Regions from separate parts of the Homo sapiens genome. Here all the other regions are linked to region 4. The links come from fine-mapping of genetic effects on gene expression. A gene starts in region 4. Each other region holds a variant in brackets. All regions are shown on one strand. Distances are between the middles of the regions. Region 1 has its middle 94 kb from the start of ZNF618. Region 2 overlaps ZNF618 (zinc finger protein 618). Region 3 overlaps ZNF618 (zinc finger protein 618). Region 4 holds the start of ZNF618 (zinc finger protein 618).

What was found. PIP is the estimated chance that this variant, and not a neighbour inherited with it, causes the effect.
Region 1: its variant is the best candidate, but not a certain one, in a credible set for the expression of ZNF618 in whole blood (TOPMed, PIP 0.68).
Region 2: its variant is the best candidate, but not a certain one, in a credible set for the expression of ZNF618 in esophagus mucosa (GTEx, PIP 0.72).
Region 3: its variant is the best candidate, but not a certain one, in a credible set for the expression of ZNF618 in whole blood (TOPMed, PIP 0.56).

What each region holds. Positions count from the first base shown.
Region 1 is chr9:113,777,979-113,785,971 of GRCh38, forward strand. No RefSeq gene overlaps it. Among named protein-coding and RNA genes, the nearest start is that of ZNF618, 94 kb to the right of the region's middle. The variant T/G (reference allele first, on the strand shown) is at 4,148.
Region 2 is chr9:113,903,536-113,911,528 of GRCh38, forward strand. The region is part of intron 1 of ZNF618 (zinc finger protein 618); the gene reads left to right. Among named protein-coding and RNA genes, the nearest start is that of ZNF618, 31 kb to the left of the region's middle. The variant T/G (reference allele first, on the strand shown) is at 3,253.
Region 3 is chr9:113,894,583-113,902,575 of GRCh38, forward strand. The region is part of intron 1 of ZNF618 (zinc finger protein 618); the gene reads left to right. Among named protein-coding and RNA genes, the nearest start is that of ZNF618, 22 kb to the left of the region's middle. The variant G/C (reference allele first, on the strand shown) is at 4,814.
Region 4 is chr9:113,873,092-113,881,084 of GRCh38, forward strand. It overlaps ZNF618 (zinc finger protein 618), which reads left to right and starts at 3,218. Exons shown (of 15, transcript NM_001318042.2): 1 at 3,218-3,322. The coding sequence starts at 3,290. RefSeq lists enhancers at 641-1,141, 1,142-1,642.

The sequences.
Region 1 (7,993 bases), 95 kb before region 4:
CAGAAGATTTAGGCTTAGACAGTCCTGAGACTGAATCTTGGCTCTAGTATTGGATAGCTGTGTGACTTGAGGAAGTAACATAACTTCTTTGATTACATGAGATATACATCATAACGAATCTAGCACAGTGCCTGACAGAGAGTATGTTAAACCATGTTAGCCTCTTTTATTTGTGCTTATAAGAGGAGGAAGAGTATAGTAGATTGCAAAATTGACCCCAAATTCCTCCCATCCCTAAAATCGTATGCATTTGCAACATGACGTTAACTCGCCTCTCATCTAGAGGTAGAGTCTCTCCCCTGGGGGCTTTGGGTGCAGTCATTTGAATTGGTCACTGAGGCCTTGGCAAATGTGGCACAAGCAGAGGCTTAGAAAGGACGCTTGGGAACCCTGAAACTGACCATGTGAGCGAGTCTGATCTAGCCTCCTTGATATGGGGAGAGCCAAATGACAGATTCTCCCACTCACTCTAGCCAATATGTGAGTGAGGCCATCCCAGACCTCTCAGCCCCCAGCTGACCCACTACCTGACTGTAGAACTATCTGGTTGACCCAGAGACTCTGGAACAATAACAAAATAATTCTTGTTTTCAGTCACTGGTTTTGGGGTGGTTTGTTATGCAGCAAAAGCTAACTATTACAAGTAGAGTCAAAAAAGTATCTAATTAGAAATAATTGAGATCAACGAGTAAATGGAATTTGCTTTTCAGAAACTCATTGGTTAGGTGACTTTGCCATAATGTAGATATATCTCTTGACACAAGGGCCATCTGTGTGAGTAGAAATGTCTGAAACATAGTTGAATTGTCTGTCAGGCTTTTAGCCAATTTAATCTACAGAAATGCATGTTATGTCCAGAACAATGAATTTTAATGCTTAGGCTGCTAAATGCAAAAAGAAATGTAAGCCATATTTACACAAGTGCTGTGTTCCCTGAAGATCCTGCAGGTCCTCCTGGAGCGGAGGCTGGCTGGGGACATCACTGGTGTTCTTTCTCTAGGAAAGGTGACTGTGATCCCTGGGAAAAGCAAAGAAATATTCAAGCCTTATTTAGAGCCCACTTTAATATTACCTAAAAAGCACGATTCACAGGCTTTGATGTCTTGGCTGAGTAGAAATAACACTTCCCTCATCAAAAAAGTTGTTTGATCCTTGAATTCTGTTTTTTTTTTCTTTTTAGATATTAACTCAGAGCATTTCAGTCTCCCCTGGGTATGAAGTGATGAAAGGGGGCAGTTGATTTAGGGAATAAAGTTATTTAACTTCATTATCTTTGCAGCCCTAAAAGGGGGGCACTGTCCCTTTTCTGTTGGCAATTGCAGGGAATTGCCTGCCACCATCGCCACACAGCCCCTGGACAGTTGTCACATGATCTCACACATGGTAACAGTTCTTCTGTCCTCCAGGACCCTGTGTATTCACATGATGACCAGAGTGATCTTTTAAAATGCTGAACCATGTAATTCCCCTGCTCCAAAATCTGCAATAGCTCCCTATTGCCTAGGCCACAGAGACCCATCTCCTTTCCCTGTTGTCTTTGTTTCTTGCTACAGCAAAATCCCGCAAACTGGGTGGCTTAAACAACAGATAATTCAAGGTCTCACATTCTGGAGTCTGAAACCAGGGTGTCAGCAGAGCTGGATCCAGCTCTGAGGCTGGGAGGATCAATTCTCCATCTCTCTTCTAGTCCTTAGGCATTCCTTGGCTTATAGATGGCAGTCTCCCTATGTTGTCACTTCAGCTTTGTCTATCTCTGTGTCCTTCTCATCATAGGACTCAGTCATATCGGATTAGGGCCTGCCCTAATAACCTCATGTTTTTTTTTTGTTTTTAAGAGACTGGGTCTCACTCTGCAATGGCACGATCATAGCTCACTGCAGCCTTGAACTCCTGGGCTCAAGTGATCCTCCCGCCTCAGTCTCCCAACTAGCTGGGACTACAAGTGTGTACCACAATGCTCAGCTAATTTTAAAAATTTTTTGTAGAGTCAAGGTCTTGCTACGTTGCCCAGGCTGAAGTACAGTGGCCCAATCATAGCTCACTGGAACTCTGAGGCTCAAGCAATCTTCCTGCCTCAGCCTCCCTGTTAATTTTTTTTTTTAATTTATTTTTTGTAAAGACGAAGTCTCCCTATGTTGCCCAGGCTGGTCTCAAATTCCTGGGCTCAAGCAGTCCTCCCACCTCAGCCTCCCAAAGCATGAGATTACAGGCATGAGCCACCACATCCAGTCTAATGTTATTTTAACTTGATGATTTTCAAAGACCCTATTTCCAAATAAGGTCATATTCACAGGTACTGGGGGTGGGGCACAGAACTTCAACATCTTTTGCGGAGGGACACAATTGCGCCCATAGCAACTGTGTCTTAAGGCCCTTCGTAGGCTGAGCCCGCACTCTCCACCCTGGAACAATCCCTGTGCCTTCACAATTCTGGCTCCAACATCATCAGGCATCGTTATTTATGTTTGAGTTCAAATTTCTCTTCCGCAACCTATTAGGTCACTTACCTGCTCTGTGCCTCAATTTCTTCATCTTTAAAATGGGAATAAAAATAATACCCACCCCAGGGCAATTATTTGGAGGGTTAAACGAATTTATGCAAACAAAACCCTCTGAATAGTATCTGGCTCAAAATTGTTCAGTGAAGATTCTTTACTATTATTTTTATGTTTTTTGAAGTTCTCCTTCTTTTCTTCCCATCCAATGAGTCTCACTCTTTTGCTGTCCCCAGATAGGAGGCTGGGGCATCCCCAGGTCACACCGCAAGTCCACAGCATTAAACCCCAGACCTCTTCCCTGAATCCAGCACTGGTTCCACTGCCCTCCACCACCCGCCCTGCCCCAGGCCTCCCCTGAACATTCCGCACGCTGCCCACACTCTTTTTCTTTGGCTCCTTTCTGCGTTCCCAAATGGTTCCAAGGTTGAGCCATGAAAACCTTCCTGTACTTAAAAACCTAGCTTCCAATCTGAGCTAAATGTGCCCTAAGTGTTAGCAGCCGTCGTTCTTTTATGTGTTAATTTGTCACTGGGGATACGGAAGGGATGGGAAAAGCGTGGAGCACTAGAAAATGGTTTGCCTCGGTCTTCATCAGCATCCTAATTATTCCACACCTTTTAAATAGAGGAAGTATTAGCATTCCTAAACTGCGTAGGGGTCTGATTGAAATAATGTCTCCTGAATTACTTTTCCATAAACTGAAAAAATAAATAAATAACAGGGAAGCGCCCCAGACACAGCCTCCTCCTGGGCTTGTGCCTGGCTGGGTCTTAGGGGAGGTGCATGAGAGGAGAGTGGCCGGGCTGTGGCTGCATTTGACCCACTGAGGTCAGGAGATATCTGTTCTCTCTGTTCCTACTCCTCCCATCCTTCCACATTATGCTCTTTCCTCTGGGCCCAGCTCATGTGAACCCTCCTCCTTCAGGAAGCCTTCCTTGACAGCATCCCTTCCTGGTTTCCACCAGTCTTGGCTTTTGGTTCTCTTGAGTGAAACTCCTGTTGCTCTATGCAGGTGGCCCTTCCAACTTGGGTGCTAATAGCTCAAGGACAAAGCCTCTTTGGAACTTTGTCTTGTCCTCTGTGTCACCGCCGGCACAAGCCCTGGCCCCCAGGAAGGTCCTGCTATACAGCTATTTACCTATGTTGGCCAAATGGTAGACAGCCTGAAGTCTCAGTGTGTCACAGCCCCTCCTACTCTCTCCCATTCCAGCCACCTCTCCAGATGACTACTCCAGAGGACTCAGCTAGCATCAGTGAAATGGAGAGTGGAGCTTCAGATACAAGGAACATTTTCCCAATAGCCAGTGGTCTCATCACAGAATGAGCTGCCTTATAAGATACAAGGTTCACCGCCCCTAGGAGCTTCAGAGCAGCAGATGGGAGGCCCTCTGTGTCTCCAACGTCCCATGGCTCCAGGTCCCGTGACACTAGAGTTCCATTCTATATTTCATGTCATTCTTTGCAAAGGAAACACCAGTCCCTTTTATTAGCTCCCAGACCATGCATTAAGAAGGAAATCTGTAGCCACTTTGTTAAAGTTGGTACAAACAGAACATCTCACATTTCAGAGCTGTCACTCCACTGAGAGTCATTCACATAAACAACGAGGTCCTCGTGGGTTTGATGGCAACACAAACACCACTTGTGAC[T/G]CAATTAAGGAAGCAGTAATTAAAAAGGGGGAACAGCATGCAGTCTCTCCGATCGTATTTTCCCACTGAGGCCTGGGCCGCTGACGGGCAGAATCTAGGGGACTTATGGGGGATCTTTGCTGGGGCCTGTGCCCCTGCTCTGGCCAGAGCTTGCCCAGGGTGAAGTGGGGAGAGAGAGAAGACATGGACACATGGGCCTTGACCTCAGCTAGTGACCCATCTCTCACACCAGCAAGCGGTGTAAGTTAATAAATTTTTTTTTTCTAAATTAACCAAGTGTACCTAAGGAGAAAACCATTGACCCCAGAGATTAGTCACAGTGTCTTGGTTCTCAAATAACCATAGTCAATATCTTTTATTTTTACTATGTTCCAGGCATTAAGTCATAACAACCCCATGACACAGCTACCATTATTAGCTCTATTTTTCCAGATGAGGAAACTGAGGCACAAGCGCAAGGTCTTTCAGCTAAGAAGAGGCAGAGCCTGTATTTAAACACTGACAGACTGGCTCTAAAGCCCACCCTTAAGCACCGTAATTAATTTGCCTCTTACTTTCTGAAATGCTCTTTCCTGGCCCTGGCCCTCCTAATAGTCAGCTTTACCATTTTTTAAACACTTACTGTGTTCCAGAAACTGTGCTGTGTACTTCCTGTGGAGGATCTCATCTTATGAAGTATGTTCTGTAATTATCTCCATTTTACAGGTGGGGAAACTGAGGCTCTTGGAGATTAAGTGCCATTCCTCACCTAGCTAAGTGACAGGGCCTGGAATCAAATCCATATCTGCAACTCCAAATATTCCATCCTGCATTTCTTACTCCCACCTGTGAGTATTGGAAAGCCAAATAGTGGACTAACAGGTATTTTCCATTTGTTTGTTGGTAGGATATCGGTGTGGGAAGAGAGGACACAGTAAGATGCTCCTGTCCTTGAGGGTTGCTATAGACTGATTTATGTTCCCCCACCCCCCACCAAATTCATACTTTGAAGCCCTAATCCCCAATGTGACTGAATTTAGAAATAGGAATTTTAGGAGGTAATTAAGGTCATAAGGGTAGGGCTCTAATGCAGTAGGATTAGTGGCCCTATAAGAAGAGAGAGAGAGAGAGATCTTCATCTCTCTCTTTCTGTCTCCATGTACACCCACCAAAGAAAGACCATGTGAGCACGCAGCCAGAAGGTAGACATGTGCAAGCTAGAAAGAAAGCCCTCATCAGAACCATTCTGGTACCCTGATCTTGATCTTGAACTTCCAGCCTCCAGAAATGTAAGAAAACACATTTCTGTTGTTTAGCAACCCAGTCTATGGTATGCTGTTATGGCAGCGGAGCTGACTAATCCAGGGGTATTTCTGAAGCATTAAGGCCAATGTATGGTGGCAAGCAAGGAATATGGCTGAGCCATCATCCGTTCTATGGTTGGATAGATGGATGCATGAATGGGTGGATGGATGGGTGGATGGGTTGATTGGATGGATGAGAGATGGCTGGTTGTTTCAGTGGGTGGATGGATAGGTAGATGAGTAGATGGGTAAACAGATAAATAGATGAATAGGGAGATGGATGGATAGATGAATAGATGGATGATGGATGATTGAGTGAGTGGATGGATGGACAGGTAGATGGGCAGATGGATGAACAGATAAACAGATGGACAGATGAATGGGTGGATAGATGTGGATGGATGGATGGATGGACGGACAGACAGATGGAAAGCTGGGTATACTTGTTATTCACCCAGAGTTAGGGGCAATGCCCCTGGATCAACACTGCTCTGGGGACTATTCCAAATCCATCTTGGTAGCTTTTCCCACAATTGCCTCTCAATTTTCATGGATGACTGAGAGCATGGAGAAGAGTCTTCATGGGTGTCAAAGAATCTGGATGTTTCTCCATAAGCTGTTGCTCAGATTGCATGATCAGTGGATTAACATCAGTCCCATCCCCACCAGGCAGCTCTGACTAACACAAATACGCAGAACAGCCGCATCCTGAAATTACTCCAATGTATGCTTTCAATTCTACAAATCACATCCCCTGAGTTCAGAGCAGGATGTTGTTTGGGAAGATTAACAGCTGTGGGAATCATGCTGGGGGTTCTGGATCCAGGCTTACCTGAAGGCTTGGCAAATATTCTGTACACCTATTGTGCACTGGTTCTGAGAGGGGTACTGGGGACAGAGGTGAACAGGACCCCATATCACACTGGAGGAGTGCTAAGTCTGGGAGTGATTTATGAAGCCTCCTCCCTCAATCCTCAGAGGCTCAGTAGGCTCATAAATGTCCCTGTTGACCCTCACCTCCCACCCCCACCTCACCTAAGCAAACTGCAGGAAGACAATTCCCTCCTTGCACAGGGAACAGAGCACCAAACAAAGGGGAAGGGAAGGCAGTGTCCAGGAGGACAGCAGACTTCAAAACAAAGAATGCTCAAGGGCCATGTCCAAAGGGCTGAGTAAGAGGAAGAGAAGGAGCAACACTGGATCAGGAAGCTAGAGTAACTTTTAGTTTCTGGGGAGGAGTAGTGTGGGGCAAGGTATTGGTTGGGTAGAGACAAGAAGCTTAAACAGAAGGCAGGGCCCAAAGAAGCAAGCAGGCAGACAGAGTGAGCCACTCTTCAGAGCACCAGAGACGTGGGGCAGGCAGGGAGGACCATTGAGACAGAGAGTGGTAACCACGGCGATTTGCTGAGCACCATGCACCCGGCCACTGTGGCACGCCACACGTGTAAGATGAAGTCCAAAAATGCTGGTAAATCTTTTAGCCCAGTGCCAGGCCCAGGGAAAGAACAATCCTATGGAATGGGCTGTATCTTTCCTCTTTTTTCATTTAAAATAATATATTAAAGGTCAGAGAACTAGAGTTTCAAGCCCTTGGTCCTACCACAAATGGGCCAGAGCCACAATTCCTGCCTAGGTCTGTATGATCCAAGGGCTGTGCCCTTCACCCCTAGTTTTGCTACCTTCCAATTAGAGCTCTGAAACTGACAACATCCACCAACATCTCTGGGTCAACATCAATTTCCTTGTCTGAAAAATGGGTTGTCTAGGGATTCAGGGTTGAAGGAATCAGTGTGACGAAGAAGTATTTGTCAAGTGGGGTGCATTATGCAAGTTTGTGGGGTGTGGCTGCTAGTTAGAGGCAGCGAAGGGAGGAAACAAGGGCAGGAAACATTGGTATAGCTCTTAGTATATGCCAGGCACTGCTCTGAGTACCGTTCATGATATGAACCCATTCAATCCTCACCTCATCCCTAAGAGTGGGGGAACTATGATCATCTTCATTTTACAGGGAACCAGAGGCACAGGGCATTAGGTAACCTTCCCAGTGTCCCACGGCTGCACCCGCAGAACCAGCTCCCACACTTGGCCATCTGCCTCAAGGCCCAAGCTCTTCCCCACTCCAGGCTGCATGGCACAGCAGAAACGCAGGCCTGGTGCCAGATAGGCGGTGAGAAGCCTGGCTCAGCCTAATAGTTCTGTGCCTTTTGCAACTCACTGAAACTCTCTGGGACTATTTATCTCTAAAATGGAGATTTAAATGCAAGCACCCAGCTCACTGGGCCTATCAGGAGGATTTTGGGACGTGATGTAGGCAAAACACTCAGTTCCATGCCTGGCACATGTAAGGGCTAAATGAATGGCAGCAGCTATGATGGTGAGGAGGAGGAGGAAAAAAAAGGAGAAGGAAGAGGAGGAAGAAAAGGAGGAGGTGGAGGAAAAGGAAGAGGGAGAAGAAAAGGAAGCAGAGAAAGAAGAGAAAGAGGAGGAGGGGAACGTGGACACCCACTGCCTACTCAGACTTGTTATTTCCGGCCTCTCCCTTGGCTTAGATGAGCCAATCTGC
Region 2 (7,993 bases), 30 kb after region 4:
CTAGTCTTCTGGTGGGTATTTTGATATTCCCAGTTTTCTGGCTGTTATAACCGGAGAACCAGTGCTTCCTATGTAGGTCTGCTGCTGATGAATTCCTTTTGGTTTTGTACGTCTTTATTTTGCTTTTGTTTTTGAAAGATATTTTTGCTAGCTATAGAATTCGAGGTTGACAGGGTTTTTTGTTTGTTTCTTTCTTTCTTTCAGTACTTTAAAGATGTTGCTTCACTGTTTCCTGGCTTGTTTCTGATGGAAAGTTGGCTGTTATTCTTTGTTCCTCTGTGTGTAATGTCTTCAAAATTTTTTTCTTACTACTTTTAGGATTTTCTCCTTATCTCTCATTTTAAGCAGTTTGATTAATGATGTGTCTGTTTCTTCTGCTTGGGATTTATTGAGCTTCTGGGTTCACACCAAACTAGAAAACTTTCGGCCATTATTTCTTCAAATATCTTTCTCTTCTCCCCTTCTTCACCCCTCCTTTTTTTTTTTTTTCCAAGGATTCCAATTGCATGTATATTAAGCCTTTTGAATCTGTCCCATAGCTCATTGATGCCCTATTTTTTCCATCTTTTATTTTTCTGTTTCATTGTTAATAATTATTGCTGTCTTCAAGTTCATCAATCTTTTCTTCTTTAATATCTAACCTCTTCTTTTTTTTTTTCTAACCTATTCTTAATACTACCCAGTGTATTTTTTTAATCCCAGGCATTGTATTTTTCATCTCTAGAAGTTTGGTTTGGGTCTTTTTATATCTCCTGTGTCCCTATAAGGTGATTATGTTTTTTTTCCTCTACCTTCCTGGACATATGGAGTATATTTATGATGGCTGTTTCAACATCCATAAAGTCTATCATATGTCATTTTTGTATCTCTTCCTGTTAATTTTTCTGCTGCTTTCATGCCTAGCAATTTTTGATTCTGAATTTTGATTCTGAATTTTACATTCCTGATTGTTTTAGTGCTGGCAGTTTTGGGGTTTAAGTATTTTTGTGCTGTGTTTTGCTCTGTTATTGGTGAAGTCTTAGCTGTATTTGTTTCCTTTGACTGCTCTAACAAATTATCACACACTTAGTTGCCTAAAACAACACAAATTTATTGTCTTGTAATTCTGGAGATCAGAAATCTGAAATGGGCCTCACTGGATTAAAATCAAGGTGTCAGCCGAGGTTCTAGAAGCCCTAGGGGAGAATCTGTTTCCCTTTCCAACCTTTAGAGGCTACCTACACTCTTTGGCCCATGGCTTCTTCATCTTCAAAGCTAGCAACATTGGGCAGAGTTCTTCTCACGTTGCCCATCTCTCTGGCTCTCTCTCTTCTGCCTCCCTCTTCCACTTAGAAGGACCCTTGCCTTGAGCCCACTCCAACCATCCAGCATAATCTCTCTATCTCAAAGTCATCTGATTAGCAAGCTTAATTGCATCTGCTTGTAGCCTAACACCTTCACAGTTCTGGGGATTAGGACGCACATGTCTTTGTTGGGTACAGGGAGGGCATTATTCTATTATTCTGCCTATCACAGTCATTAAATTACTTGGAAACCGTTTGATTTTTTTTTTCCAAGACTGCCTCGCTCTGTCACCCAGGCTGGAGTGCAGTGGCATAGTCTTGGCTTACCGTAACCTCTGCCTCCTGGTTCAAGCGATTCTTGTGCCTCAGCCTCCTATTGGAGGCACACGCCCTCACACCTGGCTAATTTTTTATTTTTAGTAGAGATGGGGTTTCACCATGTTAGCCAGGCTGGTCTTGAACTCCTGACTCAAGTGATCTGCCTTTGCCTCCCAAAGTGCCTGTTTGATCTTTGAGGCTTGCTATTCAGCCTTGTTCAGCAAGACCAGAGCAACCTTCAGAATAGAGCAGGGTTTGGCAAACTACAGGCCAAATATGGGGCAAATCAGGCTTGCCTTCTGTTTTTGTAAATAAAATTTTATTGGAACACAGATATGCTCATTTTTGTGTACTGTCCGTGGCTGCTTCCATTCCACAACAATCCATAAAACCTAAAATATTTATTTTGTGACCCTTTATAGAAAAGCCTGTAGACCAGGAGTCTACAGTCAAAGTGAAATTTCTCCACTTTGGCTATTGGGAGTGTGAACTGTTCGTAGCCCTGGATGAGCTCTGAGAATGGTTCTGCTTGGTTCTTTCTCCAGCCTCAGGTGCTTTCCTTATACACATGCGCTGATCAGCACTTGGGTGAAGCCGTTGAAGAATTGCAGCTCATTCTCCGCATGATTCTCTTCTCTGATTCCCTCCCTTGCATGTTTCACCTTCCTTGCTCTTCCCAAAGTCTAAACTCATACCTCCTCAACTTCAGGAGACCTCTGAGCTCTGCTTGGTTTTCCCCTCCCTGCCCTGCAGCTTGATCATTCTCCAGGCAGCAAGATGGGACAATCGTAGGACCCACCTTGTTTGCTTCCCTCTCTTAGGGTGTTTTGCCCAGTGTTGCCTGTTATCCAGTGTCTAAAAATCATTGTTTGATATATTTCGATCAGTTTCTTAGTTGTTTAAGGTGGGTGGTGAATCTGGTCCTTCTTACTCCGTCATGACTAGAAGCCACCAGTGCTTCTTGTATCAGTATTATTTTGCATTGATGAGAGTAGTTTTGGAAGATAGCATACCAGAAGAGGCATTGTGGGGTCATAGACTCTGTGCATTTCAAAGATATTACCAAATTGGCCCTTGTCAAGGCTGCGCTGTTTTATATTTCTGAGGGTCTCATTCTCTTAGCAGGGGTTGTGGGGATAGATGATGAATATGAAACTGCTTTGAGCTCCATAAAGTGCTGGGAAGATGCCAGAGGTTATGGCTCTGAAGAAAGGGCTTCTCCTGGCTGTTCCTCCTTTGGCTTAGGGTTTCTGATGGGCATTTCGCTCTTCCATGCTATAGTCAGGTTGTAGGGTCGTTTTAGTCACTGCCATCATGTAGGACTGTTATTTCCTTAGCAAGTGGGGGTGGCTGGGGAGGAGGCTTCCTTTAGACTGCTGCTTTCTTTCCTGACATCTACTGAACCTACAAATGCCACATAATGTTCCAAGTGCTCCGTGGAGTCATTGTGATGTAATTTAATTCTGCACCACAAGCTAGAGAGTTTGAGATGAAATGGAAACTGAGAGAGCTGGTGTGGTTTGCTTAAGGTTAAGCAGCTAATTCCTAGCAAAGTGAGGATTCTTTCTGCCTTTAAACCAAACCTGCCAGTTTATACAACAAACCATCCATTATAGTCAGGACGCCTTAGGTTTTAAGTGACAGAAACTCA[T/G]CTCAAACTTGCTTAATCCAAAAGGGGACGTGTATTGGCATGCCTACTGAAAAGTCCAGGGGTTAGCCAATTTTAGGCATGGCTGGCCCACATATGCAGATGATGTCATCGGAAATGTGCTCTTCTCCATCTCTCAGCTCTTGTTTCCTTGTGGTGACTTCTTCAGGCAGGCCCTCTCCAAGTGGTGGCAGAAATGGCTGTAGCAGCACCATGCTTATTTTTCACCCCCAGTGGAGTAGTCCTGGAGGAAAGAGAGCATCTCTTTTCCAAGGGCTTTAACGGAAGTCCCAAGGAAGGCTCTCATTGGCCCAATGAGGGCCATAGGCTCATCCCTAAGCCGATCACAGTGCGAGGATGGTGTGTTGTTATTATTGGATGGCCCTGGGTTATTTGATTCTCTTGTTGGAGTTGGGGGCTGGGGATAGCCCATTGACACCACTTAGGTTGTGGGGACCTGAAGGGATGAGATAGTTCTGTACTGTAAGATGGGATGCTGAGGAGGCAGAAACAAAACTGTCCACTGTATCCCCTTTGGCCTCTAGAGCAAGCTCACCCACTCTGGCCCTTGCAGCTCCAATTGTTCATGGTGTTCACAGGTCTGCTTGGCCCCTGCCCTGGTGAGTTTTTTCCTCGCCTGGCTTGACAGTGGCATTCTGCCCTCCCACTTGCTGGCCGTTCACTGTTCTCTTGCCACCCCGGGCAGGGACTTTCCCAGGCAATGAGGCTTCCTGGATCTTGTTCCCTTTTGCTGAATCCTTATCCAATAATCAGAACCAAGAAACCCAGGCCCAGCAGGCTGAGGACACCTCCACACCACCTCTTTCATCATGAGTAGGCAAGCGCTTTCCAGAGGGTTGTCCAGGACCCCCCCGCATGAGAGGCCCCTGGGGCCACCTGTAGACTGGTGTTTCTGCATCGCTGGGAGGTACAGTTGAATGTCTAACCAACTCCCCAGGCAATGCTTCCACACGGAAGGTTGAGAGCCACAGTTAGATGACTGTCCTCAAATGAGCTGGGGTTTTCTTTCAAGGACTCTCTTTCCTTCCGATGGGGTTGTTTGATTTATCCTGATTTTAGGATTCCCCTCCTTCCCATGAGAGCTGCCCCCTTCAGAATCATGGGGGTGTCACTGTGAGAGCTTGAGTCTGCAGTGTGGGATCCCTTTCTCAAGAGGTCAGCATGATTATTTTCCATCTAGTGCTTTGTGGGTCTCAAGACTTAAATTGGGAGGAATGTTAAAAACAAGGATGACGCACAGTGTGCCTGCATTTCCATGAAACAGTGACACCCAGAGCCTCAGCAGGATGGCTCCTGAGAACTGGGAGGCTCGGGCAGTCAAAAGAATCTTCATGTCTTGAGCCTTTGGCTTGGGAAAGTTCAGTGACTGATGTAACAGCACATTTCACTTGTTCGTAAGTTAAGACCCTAACATTTATAGAGAAAAACATCATCTTTACCCACTACGAGATTTCAAAAGCCTTTTTAGCTAAAGAACTCTTTCATAAATGCAATCTCACACAGGTGCTCAGGATGTTAAATACATAGATAAAAGCAGTTTAAAAAAATGGAGGAGGGAGGACCATATTATGACTTTTGTGGGCCTTAGGCACTTTTGTCTTCGTGGGCTCCTTCCTCCATACAAAAATATTAAAAATTATTTTGTATGACTGCATTGGTGTAGACATGAATATATTAATATTCTATGTTATACATTTTTTTTTGACCTGAAAGTTCATCTTTTAAGTTCTGATTTTAAAAGGAATGAAAGCATTTTTGTGGGTCTCTAAAAGTTTCTCGGGCCCTGGGTGCTGTGTCTGATGGGGAAGTCAGCCCCGAGGCAGCAGGTTCCTATCTGCTTGGCCCCTCTCTGGTTGGCCCCTCAGGCAGCTGGAGGAACCCAGTTTGAAGACCGCTGTGCAGAGTTATCTCTTGCCCCTTCTCAGGCTCTGCTTCTGCCTCACTGGGGAGTGAGGATCACAGAATCACAAGATACCATAATAAGGATGGAATGTCAAGGCCATTCATACCCCAGCCACCCTCACCCTCCAAGAAACAGGTCTTGCCCTTCAATCTCTGAAGTGCCATTCTTGCTAAATGATCATCTTTCCTGCCTCTGCTTGGGCCCCTTCTGGGGACGGTGATTTCATGACTCTGTTTTAGTCCTCCTTTTTAGTCTCCTATGGGGCTTCAGTAAGTTCCTGGGTCAGTCGCCATTTATACCCCAAAGCCGGTGAATCCCTTAGTGGCCAAGTCATTGCTGAGCTGGGATAGGAGCCAGGAGTCTGGGGTTCGAGGCGCAGCTCTGCCCCTCGGCTGCTGTGGGACCTGAGCAAGGACACTCTCTCTCTCTCTGAGCTTGAGGTGCCTCATTTGGAAAAGGAATGGGTTGGAGGGAATGGTCCTGTCGCCTGTTGCAGTTGTATGCAGTGATGCTAATGGAAGATCGAGGCATGTCCCGGCCTGATACCTGCAGCTCAGGTCATTCTGGGACTTGTGGCTCTTGCTTGGTGGTTGGGGGCTAGAGGCCTTGTGTGTCCCTGTCCCCCTGGGTCTGGGTGGAGTATCGTGACTGGGACTTTGACCACAGATGTGGATAAGGAAGGGGAAAAATCAGGTGGCTTCAGACCATGGCTGCGCTCTGTATGTGCTACGAGGCTGCAGATGGACTTTTCCTGAGATTTGTTTAGGGAAACTTGGGTCTGTCAGGGCTCAGTGGGCAGCTGTCCAGAAACCTTGGGGTGTCATGTGATGCCCACTGAGGTTTGGGGAGAGGGGAATGAGGGTGGTGACTTGCTTTCCTCCCTGGGACTTGCTAGCCCAAGCTTGAAGGTGCCACCGTCTCAGGGCCTGGGCTTGCTTGGGGATGGGTGGTGGCTCCACAGGGTGGAAATGTTCATTCCTTTCTCCCGAGTCCAGCGCCTCCTGGCCTCTGGTGCTTGCATGCGGATGCTCCCATGCTGTATCCCGCTCCCCGATACTCACAGCCTAGCCTTTTTTGTTTGTTTTTTTTTTTTTGAGACAGAGTCTCGCTCTGTCACCCAGGCTGGAGTGCGGTGGCGCGGTCTCAGCTCACTGCAACCTCTGCCTCCTGGGTTCAAGTGATTCTTCTGCCTCAGCCTCCCGAGTAGCTGGGATTATAGGCGTGTGTTACTATGCTCGGCTAATTTTTGTATTTTTAATAGAGATGGGATTTCACCATGTTGGTCAGGCTGGTCTCGAACTCCTGACCTCAGGATCTGCCCGCCTTGGCCTCCTGAAGTGCTGGGATTACAGGCATGAGCCAGTGCGGCCAGCCTAGCCTATTTTTATGAACTCACCACTCCCCGCCTGGCTGCCCCTTATCCCTGCTATACTAAATGGCTCTCCTAGATACACCTTGATTTTCCACCTCCCCACTTTGCTCATGCTGTCTCTCCTGCTGAGGCAGTTGGTGCCATGGCCTCCCAGACCACAGAAAGAGAGTAGGGTGCAGGATGAGTCTCCATTTCTGGCCTCTAAGTAGGGGAGCCTCCTGACCAGCCAGCTTCTAATTCCAGGTCTGTGTTTGTTCACCTGGTTCCTGCTCTTCACTCTGTAATTATTGATTCCTGCCGAGTCCACTTAGCTCGAGCCAGCTGGGGTGGACCTGCAGCCCAGCATCAGCTTCCGGGGCTTAGAAGTTCCTGGAAACAGTGACTTATTATTGGCCTAATAACGAGCGTGTTCCTGCCAGCCAGGTGTGTTCAGGTGTGCGCGGCTGCTGTGAAGGACGTCTTCATGGGCATGCATTTATTTTCCTTTCGCTTGGATCTGGCTCCTCAGGGTTGTTTCCTCTTCCACCATTACATTTTTACTTCAGTAATTTGTCCAATTATCTACCAGGGACAATATCACTTTCCTAAAGTGGTTCATCTGAAAGCCCTTTTCTCCATCCTCTCTCCTGTCCTTCCTTCACACCTGTGCTCAGGGCCCGTCTTCCCGTCCCAGCTGACAAGAGGCTCAGAGCCCAGCCTAGCCCATATCTGAATGAATTCCAAGTTAGCATGGAACTTTCTGCTTTTTCTTTTTTTCTTTTTTTTTTTGAGATGGAGTCTTGCTCTGTCGACTAGGCTGGAGTGCAGTGGCACAATCTCAGCTCATTGCAGCCTCTGCCTCCCAGGTCCAAGTGATTCTCCTGCCTCAGCCCCCTGAGTAGCTGGGATTACAGGTGCCTGCCACTATGCCTGGCTAATTTTTTTTGTATTTTTAGTAGAGATGGAGGTTCACCATGTTGGCCAGGCTGGTCTTGAATTCCTGACCTCAAGTGATCCGCCTGCCTTGGCCTTCCAAAGTGCTGGGATCACAGGAGTGAGCCACCGCGCCCGGCCTGAAACTTTCTGCTTTCTAAGCACTGTCTTAAAACACAATTAAACCAAGTTTGTTTTTCTTTGTTATAACAAATAGCAAGTGCTCTTTATAGAAAAAGAAAACACAGAAAAGTATGAGGAAGAAAGAAAATCACCTAGAGATCCCTACTCAGATGTTGACACTTTTGACATTTTGAGCTTTTTTCCAAGTATTGTTTTTGTTTTGTTTTTTTGAGATGGAGTTTCACTCTAGTCACCCAGGCTAGAGTACAATGGTGCAATCTCGGCTCACTGCAACCTCTGCCTCCCAGGTTCAAACGATTCTCCTGTCTTAGCCTCCCGAGTAGCTGGGATTACAGGCACCTGCCACGATGCCCAGCTGATTATTGTATTTTTAGTAGAGACGGGGTTTCACC
Region 3 (7,993 bases), 21 kb after region 4:
TTTCCACCCGGTAACATGGTCTGTTTCTTTATTCATTCACGCTCCTTTATATGACTCAAGTTTTGGAGTTTTCCAAATAAGTTTTGAGCACTTATTTTTAAGTTTATTCCTAGATATTTGATATTTTTGACCGCAGTTGTGACTGAGATCATTGCCCTCATTGAATATTTTGCCTAATTAATGTGGGTACATAGAAAAACTACTGATTTTTATGTGATTGTTAAGTTAGTGGATAATTTATTGTATTACCTTCTTAGTTCCAACAGTTTCTTGTGGTTTCTAGGTAGGCAATAATATCATATGCAAATAATATTCATTTCCCTTCATCTTTTACAATATTGTACTTTTTTCTCTTATATTATGCATTGACTAGACCTCCTGGAACAATTTGAATAATAACAGGGATAACAAGTATTCTTGTATTATCTTATTTCTTTTCTTAGTGAGAAGGATTCTAGCGTTTTGTAATCAAGTATGATATTTTATTTTGGTTTCAGAAATGTATATTTTTTATCACTAAGCATCCTTCTGAGTTGCTAAGAGTTTTTTATTTTTAAAATTTGTGAAGATGGAGGTGAGTGATACGATAGAGGAGTGATTTTCAATTTTCTGTATTTGAATTTTTCTTTTGCAATGGAGGTTGAATCATTCCCCTCCCCCACTATAAAGCTATTTAGTAATAAGAGGGGGTAAAAGGATGATGAATTTTTAACAAATGCCTTTTTATTATGTACCCAGATGGCCATATGGTTTTTTCCCTTTGATCTGCCGATGTGATGAATTATATTAATAGATTTTCTAATATTAAACTATCCTGGAAGGAACCCATTTTGTTTATGGTGTTTTTATTCTTTTAATGCATCCTGGGTCCAATTTGCAGCGTTTTGTGTCTATATCCATTAGTGAGATTGCCCTGCAGTTTTATTTTTAGTGTGCTGTTTTTGTCATTTTTTAAGGGGGTTATGCTAGTATAGGGGTTATAAATTAGAAAGCTTTCCAGTGATCTGAAACATGGAGGATAAATACATTTAAGATTATGTACTTATTGGTAGTGGTCGCTGAGATTGCTGTGTTGAGAAGGATTCTGAGGCCTTGTCATGTGTAAACAATTTAGTGTTTTGTAAGAGTGTAGGAAATGAGGGTTTAAGTGTGCATGCCAGATGTTTATTTGTAGTCCCTGCTTGGAATGATTTATATTGCACGGGAATTATCTTTTCAGAGTTTAAAATAACTTGCCATTAAACTCTGTCTTGTCAGGTTTTTGGAGATAATTATTTTCTACTGTAATCCTTTCTTCAATAACATTTTGGCTTTTGCTCTTTTCATGCCCGTTTTGACCATTTATATTTTCTGAGAAATGTATTCATTTCATCAAGAATTTGAACTGTATTTGCATAGAACAGAATATAATGTTATTTTAAGAATGTCCTCTGTATGGTTCTATTTCCTAAACTGATTTTTTTTGTAGTTGTATTATTTTTTTTCTTTATTCCTTGGTTGAATGACTGGTATTCAGGGAGTATTTTGTTGATTTCTATTGTTTTATTCTTTCCCCCTTAAATTTTTAAAGTTACTTGTCAATTCTAACTACTTCCAAGTTATTATACTTTTATGGTAAGTAAGCCCACCGTTCTGCTTTCTTTAGATTTTTAAAAATTCTTGAGTGAAAGCTTGGCTCTTTATTTTTCTGTTTAGTAATAAAAGTGCTGGGTTAATCAATGAATTTTCCTCTGAGTACATCTTTGGTCACTTACAGATGTGTAAGTGTAGCCTAACGATTATTTAAAAGTATAATTTAAATTTCTGTGTTACTCCTTTTCAATAAGTGCTTATTTTTATTCATTTTTAGTTTATTCTGTTATGAGAAACATTACCAATAATAGTTTTTGCTTTTTGTAATTTATTGAAATTTTTGGATTCCTTTTAAATATTAATTTGTGGAAATGTTTCATCTGCTTGCGAAAGAAGTAATTTCTGTTTTTAGGATTTATTTTTTGCTTGTATTCACACATTACATAAGCCACTTTTATATATCATTGACTTTATTAATTGTATTTTTCAGATTCCCCATAGGGCCTTAGATATATTATTAAGTTTTTCTAATTATTTCAAGAAATTGAGAGCCTGTTAATGTCTTCTAATATTATAATATTTCTTTTGATTTTACCATTTGCTTTATATGTTTTACTTTATGTATTTTATTACTAGGTCATTTAACAGAAGTATACCTGCCTGCTACATTTTATTATGGGTTGTACCCTTAATCTGTAAAAATAGGCCCTCCTTGACCTGTTTTATGCTTTCTACTTTCAGTTCTGGATTTTCTAATTTTTATAGTTCATTTCCTGCTTTTACCTTTAATTCTAGAGATTTTTATGAAAGCACTTCCTGCTTTCTATTGTTGGAATTTACCTTGTATAGATTTACATGTTTATTTTACTTTTGCTTGTTCTGTGTACTTAAAAAATAGCTACTATGTATTTCTTTTGGATATCATGCTTTCTTATACTTAAAAACTCAGAGTCTTGAGATCTGTGTTTTTTAATATGGAACTTACCCCCGTTTATATTTATTATCATAACTGATGTGTTTTGTTTCATCTAATTACAGTTTTTCCCCCTATGTACTAGTACAACTAAGAAGATGTTTTTGATTCCTTCATATATGAATGGCAGTTTGGATAAATATAACATTTTTGGGTTATGCATTTTATCCTTCAGTACTCAAGAGATGTTCTGTAGTCTTATGTTATTAATATTTTAGAAGATAATTTCGAGGATACACGATATTTTGCTTTTGTGCTTAATTCTGTTCCCATCCCCAGCCTTCCTGAATGCCTGTATCACTCTTTTTTCACCCTTGAAATTTGAGGCTTATTCCAGCCTCTATGTTTTAATGCCTTTTAATTAGTTGCTGGGAACATGGCATGTACTTTCAGTCTACAGATTTCTTTCTTAATAATAGGAAATGTTTTGTTCCATATGTCCCATTGGTCTCATCTTTTTAAAATGGTAGTTATCTCTATATATCCATATACCCCTATTGTTTGCCTTCCGTAATTATCTTTACTTTTGGTTATTTTAATCTCTTTAAATTTTTTTTAGTTTTATATGTGTTTCCCCAGCTTTTCCTTTGCATCACTTACTCGGTTTTCTGCACTGACAGTTCTGCCCTTTACTGCTTTGGATACTGGATTTCGTTTTTTGTTTTGTTTTGTTTTGTTTTGAGACGGAGTCTTGCCTTGTTGCCCAGGCTGGCTGGAGTGTGGTGGCACGATCTCGGCTCACTGCAACCTCTGCCTCCCAGGTTCAAGCAATTCTCCTGATTAGCCTCCCGAGTAGCTGGGATTACAGGTGCCCACCACCATGCCCAGCTAATTTTTGTATTTTTAGTAAAGACAGGATTTTTCCATGTTGGGCAGGCTGGTCTTGAACTCCTGACCTCAGATGATCCACCCGCCTCAGCCTCCCAAAGTGCTGGCATTACAGGCGTGAGCCACTGTGCCTGGCCTCTTAACTGGTTTAATGGTGTTATTTGATTCCTTGCACTTTTCATTCCTAGAGCTTCTCTTTCTGTTTCACTCTGTTCTTGTCTTTAATTTTACTGAGCACACAAAGGAGTGTGTCTTAGATGTCTTTCTGTTTTCCAGAGTAACACTGTGCTCTGTATGTTTCTTCTCTCAATCTTGAGCATGATGCTTAACTCTATTTTTGTCACTCCATTTTGTTTCCTTCGCCCTCCCCCTGTTTGCCTCATTTATTCATTCAAAATAAGGGAAGTCTCGTGTTTGGCATGTTTGGCTTGGCCTGGTCTATATCCTAAAATGATGTCAGTAGCTGCTTCCTCAGATTTTTCGTTTTTTTTTTTTTTTTTTAAGAGATGGGGTCTTGCCTTGTCACCCAGCCTGGATCATATCTCCCTGCAGCCTTGAACTCCTGGGCACAAGCAATCCTCCTGCCTCAGCCTCCTGAGGAGCTGGGACTACAGGTGTGCACCACCATGCCCAGCTAATTTTTAAATTTTTTGTAGAGGCGGGGTCTTGCTATGTTGCCCAGGCTGGTCTCAAACTCCTGGCCTCAAGCAATCCTTCTGCCTCAGCCTCTGGAATAGCTGGGACTGCTTCCTCAAACCTTGAGTGGAAAGAGGAGGGCTAGATGTTACACATTTATAGATCAGCGATGCAGCAGCCCGGGGTTAATGAGGTGAGGCTGAGACTGTAGTTACCTCAATATGTGGTTCTTTCCTTTGGCTTGGTGAAGCTGCGCTGGGAAGTGCCCAGTGGTTTATGCTCAAGATTCTTTCCTGGTAGGATTGTGGGGTGGGTTTGAAAGCCCTAGCTGGAAGTAGCTTAGCTTCTCTTGGCATTCCCTGTAGGTCCTGTCACCTTGGTTTTCCTCTTACCAGCCTGCCTCAGAGTCTCCAGGAGGGTGGCTGTGAGATGGTCCCTCATGATGTCCCGTGATTTGTCCCCACATCTGTAACATCTAGCGGAAATTCCTCAGTAGGTGGCTTGTGCATGACTCCTTTTCTAGATTTTAAGACCTTTTTTCCCTAGTTTTTTTTTTTGTAAAGTACACATATTAAATTTACCATCTTAACCATTTTAAAGTACAGTTCAGTAATATGAAGTACATTCACATTGTTGGGCTACCAATCTCCAGAACTCTTCTCATTATTCCAGGCTGAAACTCTATGCCCATTAAACAGCCACTCCCCATTTCCCCTTCCCCCAGTCCCTGGTAGCCTCCATTCCACTTTCTGTCTGTGTGACTTAGATCAGGGGTCCCCAGCCTCCAGGCTGCAGACCAGTACA[G/C]GTCCGTGGCCTGTTGGGAACTGGGCTGTATAGCAGGAGGTAAGCCAGCATTACCTGAGCTCTGCCTCCTGGCAGATCAGCAACACCGTTAGATTCTCATAGGAGCGCGAACCCTATTGTGAATTGTGCACACGAGGGATCTTGGTTGCGCTCCTTAGGAGAATCTAATGCCTGGTGATCTGAGGTGGGACAGTTCCATCCTGAAACCATCACTCCCCCCACCTCTGTCCATGGAAAAACTGTCTTCTAAGTAACTGGTCCCTGGTACCAAAAGGCTGGGGACCGCTGACTTAGATGACTCTAGGTACCTCATAGAAGTGGACTTACACAGCATTTGTGTTTTTGTGGCTGGCTCGTTTCACTCAGCATAATGTCCTCAAGGTGCATCTGTGTTGTAGCACATGGCAGGTTCCCTCTTTGTTAAGGGTTGAATAATACTGTCATATGTACCTACCACATTTTGTTTATTCATTTGTCTATTAATGGATATATCAGTTGCTTCCACCTTTTGGCTGTTATGAATGATGTTGCTATGAACATGGGTGGACAAACAGCTCTTTGAGACTCTGCATTCATTTTTTTTTGGTATGTACCTAGAAATGGAATTGCTGGATCATATGGTAATTCTGCATTTAATTTTTTGACAAACTGCCATTTCTATTTTTATTTTTTTATTTTTTGAGACCGAGTCTTGCTGTGTTGCCCAGGTTGGAGTGCAGTGGTGTTATCTCGGCTCACTGCAACCTCTGCCTCCCAGGTTCAAGTGATTCTCGTGCCTCAGCTTGCTGAGTAGCTGGCTGGAACTACAGGTGTGCACCAGCACACCTGGCTAATTTTTGTATTTTTGGTAGAGATGGGGTTTTAACACGTTGGCCAGGCTGCTCTCGAACTCCTGACTTCAAGTGATCTGCCCACCTCGGCCTCCCAAAGTGCTGGGATTACAGGCGTGAGCCACCATGCCTGGCCGACAAACTGCCACTTTTAAATGCGATTAACCCTAACAGTTTTTTGCACAGTAGTTAACCTCATCACTACTTTGGGTGGGCTGTACAGGGATTCTTTCCTTCATCTTACAGATGAGTAAACAGGCACAGAGAGGAAGGGGAAAAGTGACTTCTTTGAGGTGAGGCAGCAACCCAAGAGAACCTGGCAGAGCTGAGGCCAGAACCCGAGCTCCTGTCTCCTAGCACCGTCCTCTCCCGCGAACCCGAGCTCCCGTCTCCTAGCACCGTCCTCTCCCGCGAACCCGAGCTCCCGTCTCCTAGCACCGTCCTCTCCCGCAAACCCGACCTGCTGTCTCCTAGCACCGTCCTCTCCCGCAAACCCGACCTCCTGTCTCCTAGCACCGTCCTCTCGCGCAAACCCGACCTCCTGTCTCCTAGCACCGTCCTCTCCCGCAAACCCGACCTCCTGTCTCCTAGCACCGTCCTCTCCCGCAAACCCGACCTCCTGTCTCCTAGCACCGTCCTCTCCCGCAAACCCGACCTCCTGTCTCCTAGCACCGTCCTCTCGCGCTAACCCGACCTCCTGTCTCCTAGCACCGTCCTCTCCCGCGAACCCGACCTCCTGTCTCCTAGCACCGTCCTCTCCCGCAAACCCGACCTCCTGTCTCCTAGCACCGTCCTCTCGCGCTAACCCGACCTCCTGTCTCCTAGCACCGTCCTCTCGCGCTAACCCGACCTCCTGTCTCCTAGCACCGTCCTCTCCCGCAAACCCGACCTCCTGTCTCCTAGCACCGTCTTCTCCCGCGAACCCGAGCTCCTGTCTCCTAGCACTGTCCTCTCCCGCTGCTGCGAGAGAGCGTTTGTTGCACTTGAGGGTCTAAACTTTGTCTCCAGTTCTCCTCAGGGCAGAATCTCTCCTTTTCCTCAAGTTCTCCTGCGTCGTTGGGCCTCAGCGTCTCCAACATTTAAAACGGGCATCTCCTTGCCCCGTCTCCTGTCTAGGCAGCTGTTGCTCTCGCCCTTCTCTGTGCGGACTTGGCCAGCCCGGTGCTTTGCCAGACACTTGCAGGGAACTGCTCTTGCGGCTGAGCTAGCATCTGCTTCCCCATCTGGTCTCAACTTTTTTCTTAATTACCCACTGAATTGGCTCTAACAAAATGCTGACAACTTGAACGAGACATTAGCTGATACATCAGCGCCCGTGCCAGGGCCTCATGGGCTTTTCCGGGACATGCTAAACCCGGGCCCAGCAAAAGACCTTGTTCCCTGGCCAGAGTCCCCATTCTAGCTGAGTGGAAGCTCCAGCCAGGGGACAGGGTTATCACGGGGTCTCGTAGCTCATAAACGCCACTGCTTCGTGGCTGAACTAAGGCTTACAGCTTCTTAAGTGGCCTGGTGGCTGGGTCCCAAACCTGCAAGCAAGTTTTGTTCTCTCTCCTGCTGCCTCCTTGGTCCCTAATCCTCTGAGTCTTTTATTCCAAACTCCTGTTCTCCGGACTATTTCTGTTTTGTTTTGTTTTTCCTCTGCGTGTCTAACTGGTCTTGAAGCTGGGATACTAAGTGTGTCGCAGTGGGGGGGACATCGCGCTGAGCATCTGTGGCCTTGAGGTGCCTCTTCATGCCTTTTTGGGCCTGTTTTTGCATCTGCATAAAGGGGTCCAATGCAGTGCAATACAGACTCTCTTTCTGACTTTCTGTGATTCTGAGAAGAAATGGCAGTGCTTCCATTTTCTCAGCTAAGTAGGGTAAGAACAATCAGAAGCTGCCTACGTGAGGGTGGAGAGTGCAGACACCGGAGTTCGCCAGCCTGGATTCAAGTCTTGCCTCTGCTCCTTCCTCCCTGTGTGGCTCTGAGCAGTTTGCTAAACCTCTCTGTTTCGTCTTTGTAAATTGCAGGGTCAGGGGCTGGTTCAGAGAACCCCATGTGGAGTTAGTTATGAAGATTAAATGAATTAATACATGTAAACACTCAGCACATAGTAAGAACTCAGATGCTACCTGTTTTCTTTCCCTCCCTTTTAAAAGTCATGTGCCACAAGTTAATTTTGCTCAGTTTAGGGTGTGTGGCTATCTTTGCTTGTGTAGGGTCCTTTCTAGCTTTGTTTAGTTTTTATCCCCATTTTCTCCAACTTCTCTGCTCCTCCCCTACCTCCAAGCCGCTTATTCTAATGTATTTAACATGCATCTTTTTGTTTATGTGTTTTTAGAGACATGCACTATTGTTTTGTGTGCATGC
Region 4 (7,993 bases):
ACAGAATGAAGAAAGGAAGCACTCTTCAAGGCCGAGACCCCTGGGGAGGAGATGCCTCTATGGTCGAGATGTGCTGATAGAAGGCCCAGCTCCTGGGACCCATGGGTGGCGAAGAAACGGAAAGGGCTTGCAGTGATTCTAGAAAAAGAAGGCTGAGAAGGACCATGAGCTTTTATAGGCCAGAGGTGCCTGAAGACAGGCTGTGGATTATTTCAGGTTGGTGGTCACTGATGCTCTTGAGTGAAAGCCACAGATTTTCTCCCCCAAAATGCACATACAGACATACATTTGGTTAAGGAGTAGTTCTTGGTTCCCCAAACCAATGCAAAGTCCCCATTTAAGAATCCCTGCTCTAGAGAGAAACTTCCATCTAATTAAGACCCTCCTGGAATCTTCGCTGACCCACGCCCGGGCTGGGTAGGACCCTTCCTTGAGCTGCACTGAGCACCTCACTGTTGGCACTGTACTGCAAAGGTTTGAAGAAGGTGGCCCTTAAACCAGCAACATCAGCATCACCTGGAAACGCATTAGAAATGCAAACTCTTGGTGCCTAACCTAGACCAAATGAATTCAAAACTCTGGGGTGGGCTCAGCAATCTGAATAGGCTCTCCTGCTGATTCCAAGGATCACTTGCATTTGAGAAGAGCTGCTGCAAATAGTTCTCCTCTTCATGGTGTGTGTCTGTCCTACTAGATACAAGGCACCTGGCACATAGTAAGTGCTCAAATGAATAATTATCGTATCAAGTTTTCCCGACTCCCAGGGCAGGAGTTTTTCCTTGGTACCATACAGCTTTCAGCTGTGGTGACTGAGACCCCATGTCATTTTGGATCTAGTTTCTACTCTAAGGCCTAAGATCAGGCTTGGCTCTACTAGGCAGAGGCGGGGACCCGGCCTTGAGGCAGGTGCCCAGAAACCTTCACACAAGGATCGAGCCAGACAGACATCAAATCTGGGAGCATCTTTCCAGGTAACAAGGCCCCAACCACCTGGTGGATGAGGGGCAGGTGGACTAGGGGCTGCCTGCCCAGCACATATGCTCAGGGCTCACAGGACCCAACTCTGCCATGCTCTGCAAGCTGCCCCTACTCACCTTGGTGCCTGCTGCACACCAGCCTGGGCAGAGGCTGCCAAACCTCTGGCAGGGACATACTTACCAGGTTGGTGGGGAGAAAAATGGCCACTTTCAATTTCAATTTTTAAGGAATCTCCAACTTTTAGGGGTCTGGGAGGAAGTGGTTAGAAGACTCCTCTTTTTTTTTTTTTTTTGAGACGGAGTCCCACTCTGTCACCCAGGCTGGAGTGCAATGGCGTGGTCTCGGCTCACTGCAACCTCCGCCTCCCGGGTTCAAGCAATTCTCCTGCCTCAGCCTCCTGAGTACCTGGGACTACTGGCTGGTGTGTGCCACCACACCTGGCTAATTTTTGTATATTTAGTGGAGAAGGGGTTCACTATGTTGGCCAGGCTGGTCTCCAATTCCTGACCTCGTGATCTACCCGCCTTGGCCTCCCAAAAGGATTATTTGCGTGAGCCACCACTCCCGGCCAGAAGACTCCTTTTAACGTCTTGTGTTATGAGTGTTTGTTAAGGGGGGCAAGAGTTGTGTTTCTTAATTTCATGTCTCCCATATAGGGCTAAACTCCCAATTTAACTTATTAGGGAAAGGAGGTGTCTTCTACACAGTGCCTCCGTTTCCTAAAATTTTAAAAATAACTTTTTTGAGGATTGTAGGGAAAACATTTCTGTAACCTTTCCTGTCTCATATTGCTCCAGTTCTTTAAACATTACAAAAAAGAACATTTGATTTTTGAAGGTGGGGGCAGAGAGAAGATACCTGGTTACTCTTAATTTCCAATGCTTTTATTTTTGAAAAGTACCCTTGCAGTTTTCTTTTGGGGAGGGGCAAAGAAGGATTTCTGTTCACCTTGCATCTCATAGAAGAGCAATTCTTAACATTTTTATTCCAAAAATCAACCAGTTGTGGGAGATGTAGGATGGATCCAGTAATCCCTCCTTGTCTCTATAATAGGGCAGGTCCTTCATACTTTCAATTTTTAAAAAATCGGATTTTTTAGGAGAATAGGGAAGAGAATAGAAAAAAAAATCCCTTTTAAACTTTCCCAAGTCACAAGGAGGCAGTTGCTCAAGTTAAAAAAAAAAAAACAACAATAACAACAACAAAAAAACTGGCTATTTTGGGGTGTTGGAAAGAAATATCCTGGTTCACGTTTTATTTCACATGCAAGTTTCTCAAATTTTCCTTCTCTAAATCAACCTAACTGGGGGATATGGGGGTGGGGGGCGCTAATATCCCTTAACCTTTAACCCCTCTTGTCTTACTGTAGGACCAGTTTTTCAAACTTTTATTTAGAAATACATATATATATTTTAATTTGGCAAGGATAGGCAGAAACAGCCGCTTCACTGGCATTTCACATAAAAGCGGCTCCTCAAGTATTTATTTTAAAAATCAGTCTGGCTGGGGGGCTAGAGTCCCCTTAACCACTCTTGTCGGACATGGGGCCAGTCCTTCAAACTTTTATTTTATTACATTAGTTTTTTTGGGAGGAGTGGCAGGGCAATAGAATATTCCCAATAAGCCTTCCAGTCTTCCAGCAAGCCAGCTCTTGAAAACTTTTATTTCAAAAATCAATCTGGTTTTTTTTTGGCGGGGGGGTACAGCGGGGTACAGAGTTCCCATTAACCTCTTGCGTTCCGCCGAGAGCCGGCTCCCTGAACTTTTTTTCCAGCGTGAAAATGACATTTCCGAGGGGCTGGGGGACTGGGGGAGGGCAGAAGGGAGCCGGGGAGCGGGCGCGGGGGGCGCGGGGAGGGCAGGGCGCGGCGCGGGAAAGTTTGGGGGGGCGGGTGTGCCGCGGCACTGGGGCTGGCGGACGGGAGGGCGGGCGCGCCCCTGGACCGGCCGGCTTTGTGTGCCACGCGGAGGCCGGCAGCGCGGAGGCCGAGGCCGAGGCCCCGAGCTCGCGGGCCGCACGGCGAGGCCGGCCCGGGGGCGGGCAGGGCGGCGGGGGGCGGCGGCGGCCCCGCGAGGGGCGGCTCGGCGGCAGCGGCTGCCGCGGCGCGGCCGGTGCGGGCCGGGGGTGGGGGCGAGGGCCGGCGCCCCCCCCGCGCGCCCCCAGCGCCCCCGCCCCCCCGGCCTGAGCGGGGCGGGCGGAGGAGGGAGCGGCGGCGGCGGCGGCGGCGGCGGCGGCGGCATTGTGCGCGCACCAGCAGCCCGGCCCGGGAGGAGCAGGACGCGCCGGGGCCGCCTCCTCCCGCACGGACCCATGAACCAGCCGGGCGGCGCGGCGGCTCCGCAGGTACGACGGGGGGCCGGGGGCATGCACCGCGCGGGGGACCCCGGGGGGCCGGGGCCCGGGGCGCTGCGCCACTTCATTGCAAGATTTGCAAAATGCAAAGTGCCTGGGCACGTTTGCGGGCTTTTTGTGGGCGCAATCGGGAGGGTCGGGGTCCGGAGAGCACCCCCCCGGGCGCTGCGGGGTGCGAGGAGGGTGGGGGTGACGAGGGGGTCTTTTGGGGCCCCCACCCAGCGCCCCCTCCGGCCCCGGGCTCGGACCGGAGCCCAGAAAACAAAGCGGCGAGAGAACAGAGCAGCCATTTCAGTTTGGACAATTCACATTTTGCAAAAATGCAACCCCTTCCAGCTCTGCCCCCTCCCCCCCAAATTTGCAATTTTCCCCTGACCCTCTCTGCGCTCGGGGTCCCCGATGACCCCCCGGGAGGTCTTTCCCCCCAGGTCCCCCATTTTTGCAACAATCTTTTTTTTTAGGCCATATTTTCCTTTCTCAATTTTTTTTTTCTAATTTTTCTTCAAACGGTAGTTTTTTCCCATTAAAACGACGCCACCTAGAGGATACTATTTTGTAAATAAAAAAGAAATTAAAATTGAAAAGAAATATTTTTTATTTCTTATTTTTTCAAAAGTTTGCACTACCAGGCAGTGGAGGGGTAAGAGATTCTTTTTTTTTCTTTTTTCGGGTGAAAATTTTCACTTTGATCTTTCCAGAAGCATGGAGACAATTTTTATTTCTGAAGCCAAATCCAGATAATATGTAAATGAAAATTAAGCTGGAATTTGAATGAATTTAGTTCTTGGAGGGGAGAAAGCAAAAAACCTCCTAAAAGCAAAGTCAGTTTGGGTACCCAACTCATTTTAGTTTGAGAAAAAAACTAATTGGAATAAAGAAAGGAGGGAAATTGTTGAGTTTAGGGAAAACTGAGAGAATTGGCTTTATGAAGCAATTAGAAATTGTACTTCATTGTAATTTGGAACTTGTTTAGCTCAGCGGGCAAAAAAAGACTAATTTCTCTATATGGCAATATTTAAAGTTTTTCTATTTCCACGAACGAAGGATTTAAAAGAGAAAATAGAACCTAAAATGTTGGCTTTGGACACACCCAAAAATTGTAGTTTTTTTTTTTTAATTTTGCATTTACATTTTACTGCATTTAAATCCTAAGATTCTAAAGAAAACAGAAACTAGAAAAGTTACAGTGAAATCCTTTCTTTCTTTTTTTCTGTATTTGTTGGGTTTTGTGTGTGTGTGTGTTTTTTTTGTTTTGATGGAATAATTAAGACTGTTTTCTGATTTTGTTTCCTGAAAGGTCTAGGCATTTCTTTTTTGTTGTTGTTTTATCCAGAAAATGTCAGGAACCTTTTTTGAGCAATATTAAGTGGAAAAAATGTAAATTCATACATTATACAAATTGAGTAGCCCACAGATTTGTAGGAGAGACCGCCATTAAAATAAGATATGCATAATTAACATTATTATGAAAAAACTAACAGTGGATTCACAGAAGCTCATTTTTTATGACATGCAACTGAATCAATTGATGAAGACAAGGATTGAGGAATCCTTGGTAAGGAAGAAAATTTTCCCTTTTCTGTCTTGTTCACCCTTCCAATTTGAAAAATTTATTACTTAAAAAAAATTTAGATTGGTTTCAGGCCTCTTTGATTGTGATGTGGGGTTGGTAGTTTATCAATATTTGTTATTTTTCAAAAACCTGATTACTTTCAAAGGGGGAAAAATCCATTAGCCTTGATCATTTTGGGGGGTTTGTGACCAAAAAAAAAAAATGCACAAATTTTACTGACTTAACAAGAAAAAGATAAAAGAGGGATGGGCAAAAAGGAGATGAAAATTCTGATTCTTATCCATCTTCCTTGGTAGAACACTTACTTTGCTGAAGAAATGTGATATAACACCAACTCAGCTGGTTTTAGCAGCAACAAAATAAAGGAAAAATAATCAAAATACAAACAAAAGCCAAACCCAAGGTTTGCCTTTGGAATATGAAAGCATATATGCAAACAATATTTCATGTGGAGGTTTTGGCCTTAAAATGAATCACATGAAGGTGAAACAAAAAAGAAAAAAAAATTTAAGAAGGCAAATAAATATTGACCGAATTGAAATTTGACAGATGAGAATAAAGTACCCACCCAAAGATGAAGCGTTTTGTGATAAATTAGTATCTAATTGAACTTGCTGGGGATTTTGAGCCTATCCCCCAAAAGTTACAATTTTTCTGTCCAAAAACAGCATATTGTTAGGACTTGCAGGGCGGGATCTTGGAGGGACCTTGGATTGGAAATTGATGGTGGGTCACCTGGGGCAAGAAAGGAAACCCTTTGCTCCTTTTGCCAGCCACTAGCTGGTCTTGGGAAAACTGGTGGCCCCAGTCCATAGATTCCCAACCCTGTTTTGTGGAAATTTGGATGTTTAAGTGGAATAAGTCAAATATATTATCTCTGTGAAATATATTTGACAATGGCAGAGGTTTGACATTTCCCATCATCGCCATTGCATTTGGGAGATTTTATTTTTTTAGTAACGAAATCCTTCAGGGCTGACTGGTCACATTCTGACATATTTGGAATGAGCTTTTTTTTTTTTAAGTAGCATAATTAAAAAAATTTTTTTCTGTTGAATTATTTAGGCCGATGAGTAGGACGGTCAAGGAATTTATAATTTCCAAGGGGCTTTGGAGGCCTCATGAGGCAGAAGGCCTGAGTTTAGCAGTGATGAAGGAGAGATGGGCTGGGGAGGGGTGGAGGGGGGTAGGGGCATCTGAGAAAAAGTCAGGGTTGTAGATAACAGGTTATTTCTGGTGCAAGGAATAAAAATATTGCAGCACGTCCCTTTGTGTGGCCTGGATCTCCTGACACACAATTCAGCTTCCTTCATTCCATTCTGCTGAAATTTTGTTCTGTTGTCTATGGCTAGAAGTTGAAAATCATTTCTGGTTTTGTAGAACTGTTTTTTTTTTTTTTCTGTTTTTTTTTTTTTTTTAAATTGGTTATTCTGATCATGTTTGTTGTAAAGGAAGTAGAGGTGCATGATGGTTCTATTGGGGGCGGGGCCAGTTTTCTTTTGTTTCTATTGGTGTCTCTCTCTGGATTGAGATCTGACCTTGGCCTTGGCTCTCTCACCTCCTATTTTAGGTGGACGTGTGACCAGAAATGGACATGTGAGCTAATTTTTATTAGCTCCTGTCTGTTCACCACATTCTCGTAGATTATTGGGCAAAATATCTGGCAAATTGGACTTGGGGGTGGTAATTTGATGATGGGCTGAATTATTTTGGCGAAAGATCGTTTATATTCAGTTTCACAGTGGAGACTCTTATTACTTAATGTTTTGCTTTTCTGCCTAAGGAGGTTTTTTTTTTTTTTTAATTTTTTCTAACAAGGTTTGAAATTTCAAGGGCCTGCTTTATAGTTTGACTTTGGAGCAAGCTAGGAAAAGAGGTTTGCTTATACTTCCAGCTCTGCACAGAGGTGAACTTGAACAAGGGTTCTTGCTTTTGCAGAACGAAAGCAACAAAGATGGCTGGTCAGTATAAGGCTGACCTCTCCCTCGTCCTAGAAAATAAACAGCCAATGGCTTGTTTCACTTGAGAAACTGGGTTTTAAAACTCCTCCAGTGTCAGATACAATATTTTTCTCACTTTTGACTCAGCTCTTGGCATGCTGCTTCCTCTGACCTCAGAATCCTTACGTCTTCTCCTTGGTGGGTGATAAGAACTTCCTTGCCATATATGACTGATGTATATAAGCCGACTTCTCATGGTCATGAGGAAATTTTGAATTTTTTCCATGTTCTTGTGATGTTTTGGGTCAGTTGTACCTTCTTTCTGGTGATGTAAAATGAAGTGGCTCTTTTCAGGAGCCCTAGCCCCCACAAGGTCTTGCTGTGTGACCTTGGACAAATCACTTTTTCCTTCAGAGCCTCAATTTTTGCATTTATAAAATGAACACTTGGGATCAGATCAAGGATAATAATAAATAGGTTTCATTTCTGATTGTAACTCCAAGGAATTGGTTATGGCTGCCTGGATCACTGTGTTGAGAAGGATTCTGAGGCCATATCCCGACTCCCATATTCTAGAGAGAGGGGTGCAGTGGCCAAACAGCATTGTAAATCAGAGTGGAGAGTGTACCTCTTAGTTACCATTCCCAGGCGAGACCTTGAATCATGGGCCATTAGTGGCCTGTGAAGTCAATTTAGTGAATCACAATCAGAATTTTTTAAAAACAAGAATAGACTAGAATATAGGGGAACAAAAAATAGCAGAGGCATACCACAGGGTACAGGTGAGTATCCTCTCATGAAACTTGTATTTATATTTGTGGATGTATGTGTGTGATTTGAAATAGATTTCCTCCTGTGGGTCACGGCCAAAAGAGTTTGAAAGGTACTGGACTAGCTGAACCGCCATGATGTGCTGCAGGTATACTGCACTTTATTGCTTATACTTTATTTTTGCATTTATTATCTCAATTAACTTTTAGGTGAACCCTGTGGGTTAGGTGTCCTGTGCCACATATTTTGAGCCCTGGTTGAGCCCACTTCAAGGGCCACATATGAAGAAAGCTCAGCCACATGGGCAGCCCAGGCACATACCCCAGCTTGTTGGCCTTGGATGAGTCTGGAAGGACATATGGAAAGGCAGATACAAGT